Linked DNA regions of Homo sapiens: all the other regions are reported to be linked to region 1. Evidence: microRNA targets listed by miRTarBase, many of them from high-throughput screens and not tested one by one. Region 1 holds a microRNA gene; each other region holds the end of a gene's coding sequence.
Evidence for each region. The annotated mature microRNA hsa-miR-143-5p reads GGUGCAGUGCUGCAUCUCUGGU and lies in region 1 at 1,037-1,058, opposite strand. An mRNA with a match to its seed (bases 2 to 7 or 8) in the 3' UTR can be bound and repressed. Matches are read on the target gene's strand: a 7mer-m8 pairs with bases 2 to 8, a 7mer-A1 pairs with bases 2 to 7 and ends in A, and an 8mer does both.

Region 2: the mRNA of TEP1 is a reported target of hsa-miR-143-5p. Seed matches in the 3' UTR shown: 7mer-m8 at 1,481-1,487 and 7mer-A1 at 2,010-2,016.
Region 3: miRTarBase lists SLC25A33 as a target of hsa-miR-143-5p. Seed matches in the 3' UTR shown: 7mer-m8 at 1,687-1,693.

Annotation. Positions count from the first base shown.
Region 1 is chr5:149,426,653-149,430,001 of GRCh38, reverse strand. It overlaps MIR143 (microRNA 143), which reads right to left and starts at 1,084; the gene lies at 979-1,084. CARMN (cardiac mesoderm enhancer-associated non-coding RNA) reads right to left here. Exons shown (of 5, transcript NR_105060.1): 4 at 963-1,119.
Region 2 is chr14:20,365,801-20,369,149 of GRCh38, reverse strand. TEP1 (telomerase associated protein 1) reads left to right here. Exons shown (of 55, transcript NM_007110.5): 54 at 248-352; 55 at 591-3,349. The coding sequence ends at 713. Among named protein-coding and RNA genes, the nearest start is that of PARP2, 24 kb to the right of the region's middle.
Region 3 is chr1:9,582,269-9,585,268 of GRCh38, forward strand. It overlaps SLC25A33 (solute carrier family 25 member 33), which reads left to right. Exons shown (of 7, transcript NM_032315.3): 7 at 31-2,905. The coding sequence ends at 233. Among named protein-coding and RNA genes, the nearest start is that of TMEM201, 5.1 kb to the right of the region's middle.

The DNA of each region.
Region 1 (3,349 bases):
TGAGCTGCTTAAATAAGCCTCAGTTTTTCTCATCTGTAAAATGGGGCTATAACACCACCCACTTCCCAAGCTTTTGGGGAGGTTAAATGAGACTGTGCTTGGCTCCATGGCTCTCCTCTGCTGCTCATTGTGCTTCTGAAGCCTCTGGGAGAAGTCAGACATTTGTGACGTGCCTGGACTGGTTTCGGCAATACCCCGGAGCCAAGGTTAGAAGTACAGAGTGAAGACCCTGACTCAAAGGCCAGAATTTTTATCTTCAGGGCTGAAAGGGTTTTTAGGAATTGTTTGATCCACAAATGATGAATGAGTTTCAGCTGTGAATCAGTACTAGTGGCTTTCCAGGGCTCATTGTTGAGGATTCTGAAGCTGCATCTGAGCACTTCAAGAATGGATGCCTGGCGGGGCGTGGAGGCTCATGCCTGTAATCCCAGCACTTTGGGAGGCCGAGGCGGGCAGATCACCTGAAGTCAGGAGTTTGAGACCAGCCTGGCCAACATAGTGAAACCCCATCTCTACTAAAAATACAAAAATTAGCCAGGTGTGGTGGCGCACACCTGTAATCTCAGCTACTTGGGAGGCTGAGGCACGAGAATTGCTTGACCCTGGGAGGAGGAGGTTGCAGTGAGCTGAGATTATGCCACTGCACTCCAGCCTGGGTGATGGAGTGAGACTGTGTCTCAAAAAAAAAAGAATATATGCCTTTACTGATTAGCTGTGTCTGCCATGGGCTCAGAAAGAGAAAGCAGAGGCAGGGTGCTGGGGAAATGCTAACGCCTCATGCTAAGATGGACACACTGGGGTACACAGAGGAGTCAGGACATGCCCAGACTCGTGAAGCAGATCGTGGCACCAGGGGAACTTGTGTAGAGGAACTTCCCCAGCATCACAAGTGGCTGATAGTATGGAGTCTGGAAACACTCTGTCCTTCCTGTTATGGCCCCCCACAACCCCCCAGCACTTACCACTTCCAGGCTGATGGCTGCAGAACAACTTCTCTCTTCCTGAGCTACAGTGCTTCATCTCAGACTCCCAACTGACCAGAGATGCAGCACTGCACCTCAGGCTGGGAGACAGGGCGCTGCGCTGCTCCGCTCTGGTGGCCTGTGGCGGGACTCCAACCTGGCCAGGAGAAGGGGTGTTAGAGGGGACCTGGGCTCCACCTCTCCAGCTCTGGCCGGGAGGCTGTTGTAATTCCTCACAACTGTGTTTCCTGTCTGTGGCCTGCCATTTGAGCACCCAGGACCAAACCTTGACCTTTTTTCTCTTCTTTTCTTTGTTTCTTTCCTTTTCTTGTCAAGAACAGCTTAATTTAGAAGGAGGACATTTAGTGAGTACAATTAACAGGTTTTTAATATATTCACAAAGTTGTGCAAACAATGGCACAATATATTTTAGGTTATTTCACCATCCAAAAAAGAAGCTCCTTATCCTTAGACAACCCCTAGTCCTGGGCAGACCAGTTTCTATCTCTATAGATCTGTCTATATATTTTCTGGATATTTCAATACATGGAATTATTTAATATGTTGACCTACCTTTTGATGCCATGCCCCACCTTTATGCTTGGCGCATTCCAGCCTAACAGCATCATTCATGGTACTTAACATTTTATATCATCGAGCAATCAATTGTCTCCAACCTATCTTTCTTCTGCCACTCCTCCTCTCTTCCCAGCCATCTTCCCATAATGATTTTTCAAGATGCAAATATGCTCATATCTTACTCAAGTTTAATATCCCAAAAGGGCTCCCCATTGCCCTCAGGCTGAATTCTGAAGCCCTTCCCAAAGCCTGCGAGGGTCTGCCGCATCTAGCCCCAGTGACCTCTTCCTCTTGGGCTACAGCTCATAGATGTCCTTCCATTCTCCTAGGGAGCCCTGTGCCCACCCACTTCGGGCTCCCAGGGACTGTGCTGCTCCCCGTCACTCTCCCTGCCCATCTCTTCCTCCTGTGCTAGGTCTCTAATCAAGTGGCCACTCTGGGAAACCCTCCTTGACTTTTTTTTTTTTTTGAGACAGAGTCTCCCTCTGTCGCCCAGGCTGGAGTGCAGTGACACGATCTCGGCTCACTGCAAACTCCACCTTCCGGGTTAAAGCAATTCTCATGCCCCAGCCTCCCAAGTAGCTGGGACTACAGGCGTGCACCACCATGCCTGGCTAATTTTTGTATTTTTAGTAGAGACAGGGTTTCACCACGTTGCCCAGGCTGGTCTAGAACTCCTGACCTCAGGTGATCCACCCGCCTTGGTCTCCCAAAGTGCTGGGATTATAGGCATGAACCACAGTGCCCAGCCCCTCCTTTACTTCTTTAGCCATCAGCACCCCCTGCTTCATGTTCTCGCCCACCCGGTGCCCTCTTTCTAACCCTTTACCATGCTGGTAATGTGGTTTTCACTTACGACCACCTCCACTTGTGGACTACATGGCTCACCTGTGAAGGGAAGGGACCCTGTCAACTGTGCTCACTACTGAAATCAGGGCCAGGTGGTGTAGATGCCACATAAGCCCAGGTTGAATGGCTGAATCATAATTCCCAATCTCATTATCTCTAGTATCAGTGTTATTTGTGTGTGGGTCTGACCTGGCTAGATCTCCACTTCCTGAGGACAGTGCCTGTGTCTTGTTAATTTGGGGGGCCCTGGGTCTGACCTGTGGCTTGGTACATGATGATGGACCTAGGTAATGCCATTTGGTGGCTGATTGGATGACCATGTAGATAATTCATTTTGTTTTCTGGGCCCGGCTTGGGTGGGAACTTTCAGGTGAGCAGGCAAAGCCCCTTCTCACTCTTCCTGCCCTGCCAAGATCTCAGGGCACCCCAGAGGACCTTCTTGCATTGCTTAGTGGTCACTGTGGTGGCCTTGATGTTGGATGACATATATTTTCAGGAATGTCTGAAGGGGATGGGTAGCCTTTCTTCAGGGCTGAGAGAGAACAGAAAAAATATACCTCCTTAAAAAAACAAAAACAGAGCTGGGAGCAGTGCTCATGCCTGTAATCCTAGCACTTTGGGAGGCTCAGGCAGGAGGATCGCTTGAGCCTAGAGTTCAAGATCAGCCTGGGCAACATGGGGAGCCCTTGTCTCTAATAAAAAAAAAAAAAAAGGCTGGGAGCAGTGGCTTACACCTGTAATCCCAACCCTTTGGGAGGCCAAGGTAGGCGGATCACCTGAGGTTGGGAGTTCGAGACCAGCCCGGCCAACATGGTGAAACCCTGTCTCTACTAAAAATACAAAAATTAGCCAGGCGTGGTGGCGGGAGCCTGTAATCCCAGCTACCTGGGAGGCTGAGGCAGGAGAATGGTTTGAACCCGGGGAGGTGGAGGTTGCAGTGAGCCGAGATCTTGCCATTG
Region 2 (3,349 bases), not on the chromosome of region 1:
TGTAGTCCCAGCTACTCGGGAGTCTGAGGCAGGAGAATGGTGTGAACCCGGGAGGCAGAGCTTGCGGTGAGCCGAGATTGCGCCACTGCACTCCAGCCTGGGCGACAGAGCGAGACTCTTGTCTCAAAAAAAAAAAAAAGAAATACTAAGGGAGGAGGGCTGTAGGTCTGACACAGCACATTGTGATGCTTCTCTGAGGAGGGGCCCCTGAGAACTCACCATTCTGCTCTCCCCTTTCCTCTTTGAGATTCACTCGGGCTCTGTCACAGCCCTCCATGTGCTACCTGAGTTGCTGGTGACAGCTTCGAAGGACAGAGATGTTAAGCTATGGGAGAGACCCAGTATGCAGCTGGTAAGTGTGTGTGTGTGTGTGTGTGTGTGTGTGCGTGCGCCTGCACACCTATCCCAAAGGGATGTCACAAGACAGCAAACTTAGAGTAAGAAAGGGCAAAAGATCAAAATTCTGTTTTCTTCAATCACTTGCAATGTATGACTAACCTGTTTCTAAATAAAAGGCATTAATGTGAGAAAAAATAAGTTAGTAAGGAGGCTTGTAGCCCTGACCTCCCCTATTTTTGTTCCCATCGTAGCTGGGCCTGTTCCGATGCGAAGGGTCAGTGAGCTGCCTGGAACCTTGGCTGGGCGCTAACTCCACCCTGCAGCTTGCCGTGGGAGACGTGCAGGGCAATGTGTACTTTCTGAATTGGGAATGAAGATGTGCCACTCGGGAATAATGATACCCCTTGTGCTAGAGATGCAAAGCCTGAAGACACTGGTAGCTTTTAATAATTATAAAATTAATAATTTCTTGATAATTATAAAAATGAAGTGTCAAAAAATCTCAAGTGTAGGCCTGCCTGTGTTCTCATGTGGATTTAGAACAGGAGGATATTCTATGTGTATGTATATGTACATTCTAATGTGTGTCTCTTCTTATTCAACATTAATCCTTACTAGAACCACAAGAAAGTGAATGAAATCTTTAGTAGGTACTCTTTTGAAACTAGGTTTTAGAATTCTTGCATCACTCGCGGGCCCTAGGACCCTAGGATGCCATTCTTGCCAGGAGGAGGAATGAGAGTGATGTTGGCCAACATTCAATTTGAACAGAGCATGGAAGACCTTTCAGTTCATCGGGAAAGAATGAGGGAGGGAGAATAAGTCAGTCATGCATCAGGGCATTTAGAAAGAGCTATGTTTCTGTCACAGAGACAGCCCTTTTCTCAGAACTACCCAGAGGAGGCCGGGCATGGTGGCTCACGCTTGTAATCCCAGCACTTTGGGAGGCCGAGGTGGGCAGATCACGAGGTCAGGAGATCAAGACCATCCTGGCTAACATAGTGAAACCCTGTCTCTACTAAAAAATACAAAAAGTTAGCCAGGTGTGGCGGCGGGCACCTGTAGTCCCAGCTACTTGGGAGGCTGAGGCAGGAGAATGGCGTGAACCCAGGAGGCGGAGCTTGCAGTGAGCCGAGACACCACTGCACTCCAGCCTGGGCAACAGAGCGAGACTCTGTCTAAAAAAAAAAAAAAAGAACTACCCAGATGAGAGGTGAGGAGCCAAGCCATTGAAAGCGGAACAAACCTTCTGGTTTTCCCAACTTCTGACACGACTTTCAACTTTAGTCAATATGGTAATTGGCATTCTCAGAAGAGATCACGAAAGTGTCTTACTCTCTCTCAAATTGAAATTCACAAAGATTAAAACTAATTGAGAGGTGGCACAATCATAGCCATGAACTCTGATTTTCTTAAGTAAAAAACCTTTTTTTTTTTTTTTTGTTTTTGAGATAGAGTCTGGCTCTGTCACCTAGGCTGGAGTGCAATGGTGCAATCTCAGCTCAGTGCAACCTCTGCTTCCTGGGTTCAAGCGATTCTCCTGCCTTAGCCTCCCGAGTAGCTGGGATTACAGGTGCCCACCACCACGCCCAGCTAATTTTTGTATTTCAGTAGAGACGAAGTTTCACCATGTTGGCCAGGTGGGTCTCAAACTCCTGACCTCAGGTTATCTGCACACCTCAGCCTCTTAAAGTTCTGGGATTACAGGCGTGAGCCATTGTGCCCGGCCCATAAAAGAACTTTATTATATTTCTAAAATTCAATCATATGGAAGAATCTATTGAGCAGGTTAGCCTTTGCTTAACTTTCCTCCTCTGTTACTCCAGCCTTAGCTGGGGTGTTTTGTAGAATTTTCAGAGCATGGGAGACAGACAACTAGAGCTTCCTCCTGCCCTTGGCCCATGCTTTTAGGAGAGCAAAAGGCAAAAGATTGAAACCACTGACTTTAGTTTCCTCAGGCCCTTTCTTTCTGAGGGTTAAAGAAGAAGGAAATGTCTTCTGTGGCCAAGAATTCAAGGACTTGTAGGAGATAAGTGAAGGCTATTACAGGGATTTTGTCCTGGTTTGGTAGGTTTCTCTTGGAGAAATACCACTACACCCTGGTCTAGAAATGAGTTTTGAAGACTTGGGGAGTTAAAGGGCACTGAGTTTTACTCTCACTGTACCCTGATTCCAGGTTTTACATGGAGAAATAACCTGAGGGACTTTATTTCTATCCAATGCCCTGGTTTCCATCCTGACCAGAGGATGATGACATCCGCTGATAGGCCATGCTTCTGTCTTCTCTTATGTGCCTCATGCCAAGCCTCGAAATATACCTTCTGGACCATCATTTCCACATCTACCTTGTGACTAGAAGTCCTAGTTATGGTATTTTGAAATTTATGATCCATAATCCTTGCCAGAAATCCTGCAGCGAACTATGGCATGGCATCATCCTAGTCATTGATTTCAATCTTTTGCCTTTTGCTCCCCTAAAATCTTGGGCCAATTGCAGGAGGAAGCTCTATTTGTCTCTCTTCCATGCTCTGAAAATTATATAAAAGCATCCCAGCTAAGGCTGGAGTGAAGGGGTTGGGGAAAGTTAAGCAAAGGCTAACTTGACCAATAGGCTCAATAGATTCAGTCTTGTTGGCCAGGCCCACTTGAAGGGTTTTTTGTTTCATCTTGGAGAAGGACAGTGAGGTCATGGTATAATTGTTATGAGTAAAGTCAAGAACAGCTTCTAGGTAAAAGTAATTATGTACCCAAAAGGAGTTGAAGGGAAAATCAATTTAGGTTTACATTAAACATCCTTCAAGTTCTTATCTTTAAATGGAGTTTCAGTGTCTCCCAAAGGCTGGATGAGTTTTACAGTTATAACCACTGGATTGTGAGACCATAGGACATTTGAACAATCTTTTCTTCTACCCATCTAGAAAAGCATCTTTTTTATATACCAAATTTTTACACATATATCCACATCTGTTTTTGAAATCTAGAGCAGAGGTACTCAAAGTTTGGTTCATGG
Region 3 (3,000 bases), not on the chromosome of region 1:
GGCGTAAAGTAGGTCTTTCTCTCTCTGCAGAAGTCATAAGGACGAGGCTCCGGGAAGAGGGCACCAAGTACAAGTCTTTTGTCCAGACGGCGCGCCTGGTGTTCCGGGAAGAAGGCTACCTTGCCTTTTATAGAGGACTGTTTGCCCAGCTTATCCGGCAGATCCCAAATACTGCCATTGTGTTGTCTACTTATGAGTTAATTGTGTACCTGTTAGAAGACCGTACTCAGTAACAGGCCGGAAAATTGTGCTCTAGAAGAATAAAACTGAAAAACTCTAGAGAATTTTTTTTCCCCATTGATGTTTAGAAAGTTTGAGACTGAAACAGGAAAGGCCATAAAATATCTGGTTCATATCACCTGTTGGACATTTCCTTTTGGATTCATGCTTTCTGGAAGGTTTAAATTCATTAACGTTAATAGTTAATTATAACTTTTTTTTTAACTTAAGAGGATTCAGGGTTAAGCACCAACTAAATTAAATCATGCTATTTAATTTAAGTATACATTTGGCTTGTGTCCTCTTTTATGCTCACTATACTATGAAGGACTTAAGTAATTCAGATAAACCTGCCCTAGAACTGCAGAGAAAAATGATAAAGTGAGAATACAACTTGTTTTATAATCTGACTTTAAGATCTTGCACTGCTAGACAGGGAAGAAGTGTCGCATTTTGGCTGGGCACTGTGGCTCACGCCCGTAATCCCAGCACTTTGGGAGGCCGAGGCAGATGGATCACGTGAAGTCAGGAGTTCCAGACCAGCCTGGCCAACATGGCGAAACCCTGTCTCTACTAAAAATACAAAAATTAGCCGGACGTGTGCCTGTAATCCCAGCTACTTGGGAGGCTGAGGCAGGAGAATCACTTGAAACCCAGGGGGCAGAGGTTGCAGCGAGCTGAGATCACGTCACTTCACTCCAGCCTGGTCGACAGAGTGAGACTCCATCTCAAAAAAAAAAAAATTGTGTCACATTTTGGTGGTGGTGTGTGGACCAGGACAAACTTCCCAGCAATTTTTCTTCTTTGTACATTTCCAATTACTTGCAGATTGATCATCTAAGCGTTCAGACTGCTGAGATGAATATATATAACTTTCTGAGACTCAATATTTTAAGCTATAAAAAACTTCCTGAAGTTATCCTTTTCTCCCTACTTTGAACCAAAGGCAAGAATTTTTAAAGAACTGTTTTATCAATGGCCTGGCTCCTGGATATAGTTCCGGAAGTTAAGACCAGTTGCCTTGTTAAGTGTGTTGACAGCACAGCTACCCTGTTTGGCTGTGAATCCAGAATGTGATGAAGAACAGTCATTCCCACTGAGGTCTTTAGCCCTGTTCTTGGACCTCTGCTCTTGCAGAAAAGGAGCACAACGTAGGACTATGGCTCACCCGTCAGAGAGCTCACATTCTGATAGAAAGCACTGGGATTGTTTAAATATCCTAGTTCAACATTAAAAAAAAAAAAAATTTAATCCCAGCACTTTGGGAGGCCAAGGCGGGCAGATCACGAGGTCAGGAGATCGAGACCATCCTGGCTAACACGGTGAAACCCCGTCTCTACTAAAAAAATACAAAAAAATTGGCCATGCGTGGTGGCGGGCACCCATAGTCCCAGCTACTCGGGAGGCTGAGGCAGGAGAATGGCGTGAACCTGGGAGGCGGAGCTTGCAGTGAGCTGAGATGGCGCCACTGCACTCCAGCCTGGGCCACAGAGTGCGACTCCATCTCAAAAAAAAAAAAAAAACCAGGATGTTACCCCCTTGGTTTTAAAGCAAATTTAATAAGGGAACAAAAAGATGATACTAAGAAGAAGGCAAGTAAAACCCCTAGTCTTCCATTAGCTCTTTCACTGGAATTTGAGTATATTGTACATGAAGGTTGGTTTTCAATTTGAACGTCTAGAAAGATACTCATTTCTAATACCTATGCACTGTAGTTTCAGGTTTACTTGCAGACACCCTGGTAGGGTTAAGAGGAGGATATTTCCAAGTTATTTTAAATTGAGTTTACTTTTAACTGGGGTTCTTGACTCTAGTGTAATTGCTCCAACAACTACGTAGAAGTCAAAATGAGTGACTTTAGTGAAGCTTCTGTACTTTACAATACATGACAGTAATGCTATTCCAGAAGTTTTGTTTTGTTTTGTTTTGAGATGGAGTCTCGCTCTGTCTCTCCCAGGCTGGAGTGCAGTGGCACAATCTCGGCTCACTACAGCCTCCACCTCCCGGTTTCAAGCAATTCTCCTGTCTTAGCCTCCTGAGTAGCTGGGACTACAGGCATGCGCCACCACACCTGGCTAATTTTGTATTTTTAGTAGAGATGGGGTTTCACCATGTTGGCCAGGCTGGTCTCAAACTCTTGACCTCAGGTGATCTACCCGCCTCGGCCTCCCAAAGTACTGGGATTACAGGAGGGAGCCACCATACCTGGCCCGCGCCGCCCCTTCCTTTGTTGTTATTGTTGTTTTGAGACAAGGTATCACTCGATCACTGAAGCTGGATACAGTGGCAAGATCATAGCTCACTGTAACCTCAAACTCCTGGGCACAAGGGATCCTCGCATCTCAGCCTCCCAAGTAGCTTGGACCACAGGAAAGTACCACCATGCCCAGCTAATGTTTTTTCATTTTTTGTGCAGACGAGGTTTTGCTATGTTGTCCAGGCTGGTCTCAGACTACTGGCCAGAAGCGATCTTACCTCCTCAGCCTCCCAAAGCACTGGAATTACAGAGTAACATCTAATTTTAATATTCACATTCCTATTTTAATATTCATATTCGATGATGGCACTTAGCAACATCCTCCTATATCCATATTAAAACCTGTTTTCCAAGATTGTGTCTAATATGAAGGTGTAAAATTGCTTTGTTTTCACTCCTTCTTGAATGAATAAATTTGATAGTAACCAATTATAATTTTAGTTTTCTGCTTCTCCTGCCCCAGGGCATGGAAATGCAAGCTGCTTAGGCACCCAAAGTAGGAAAGAAGTGATGGTTCCTCTGTA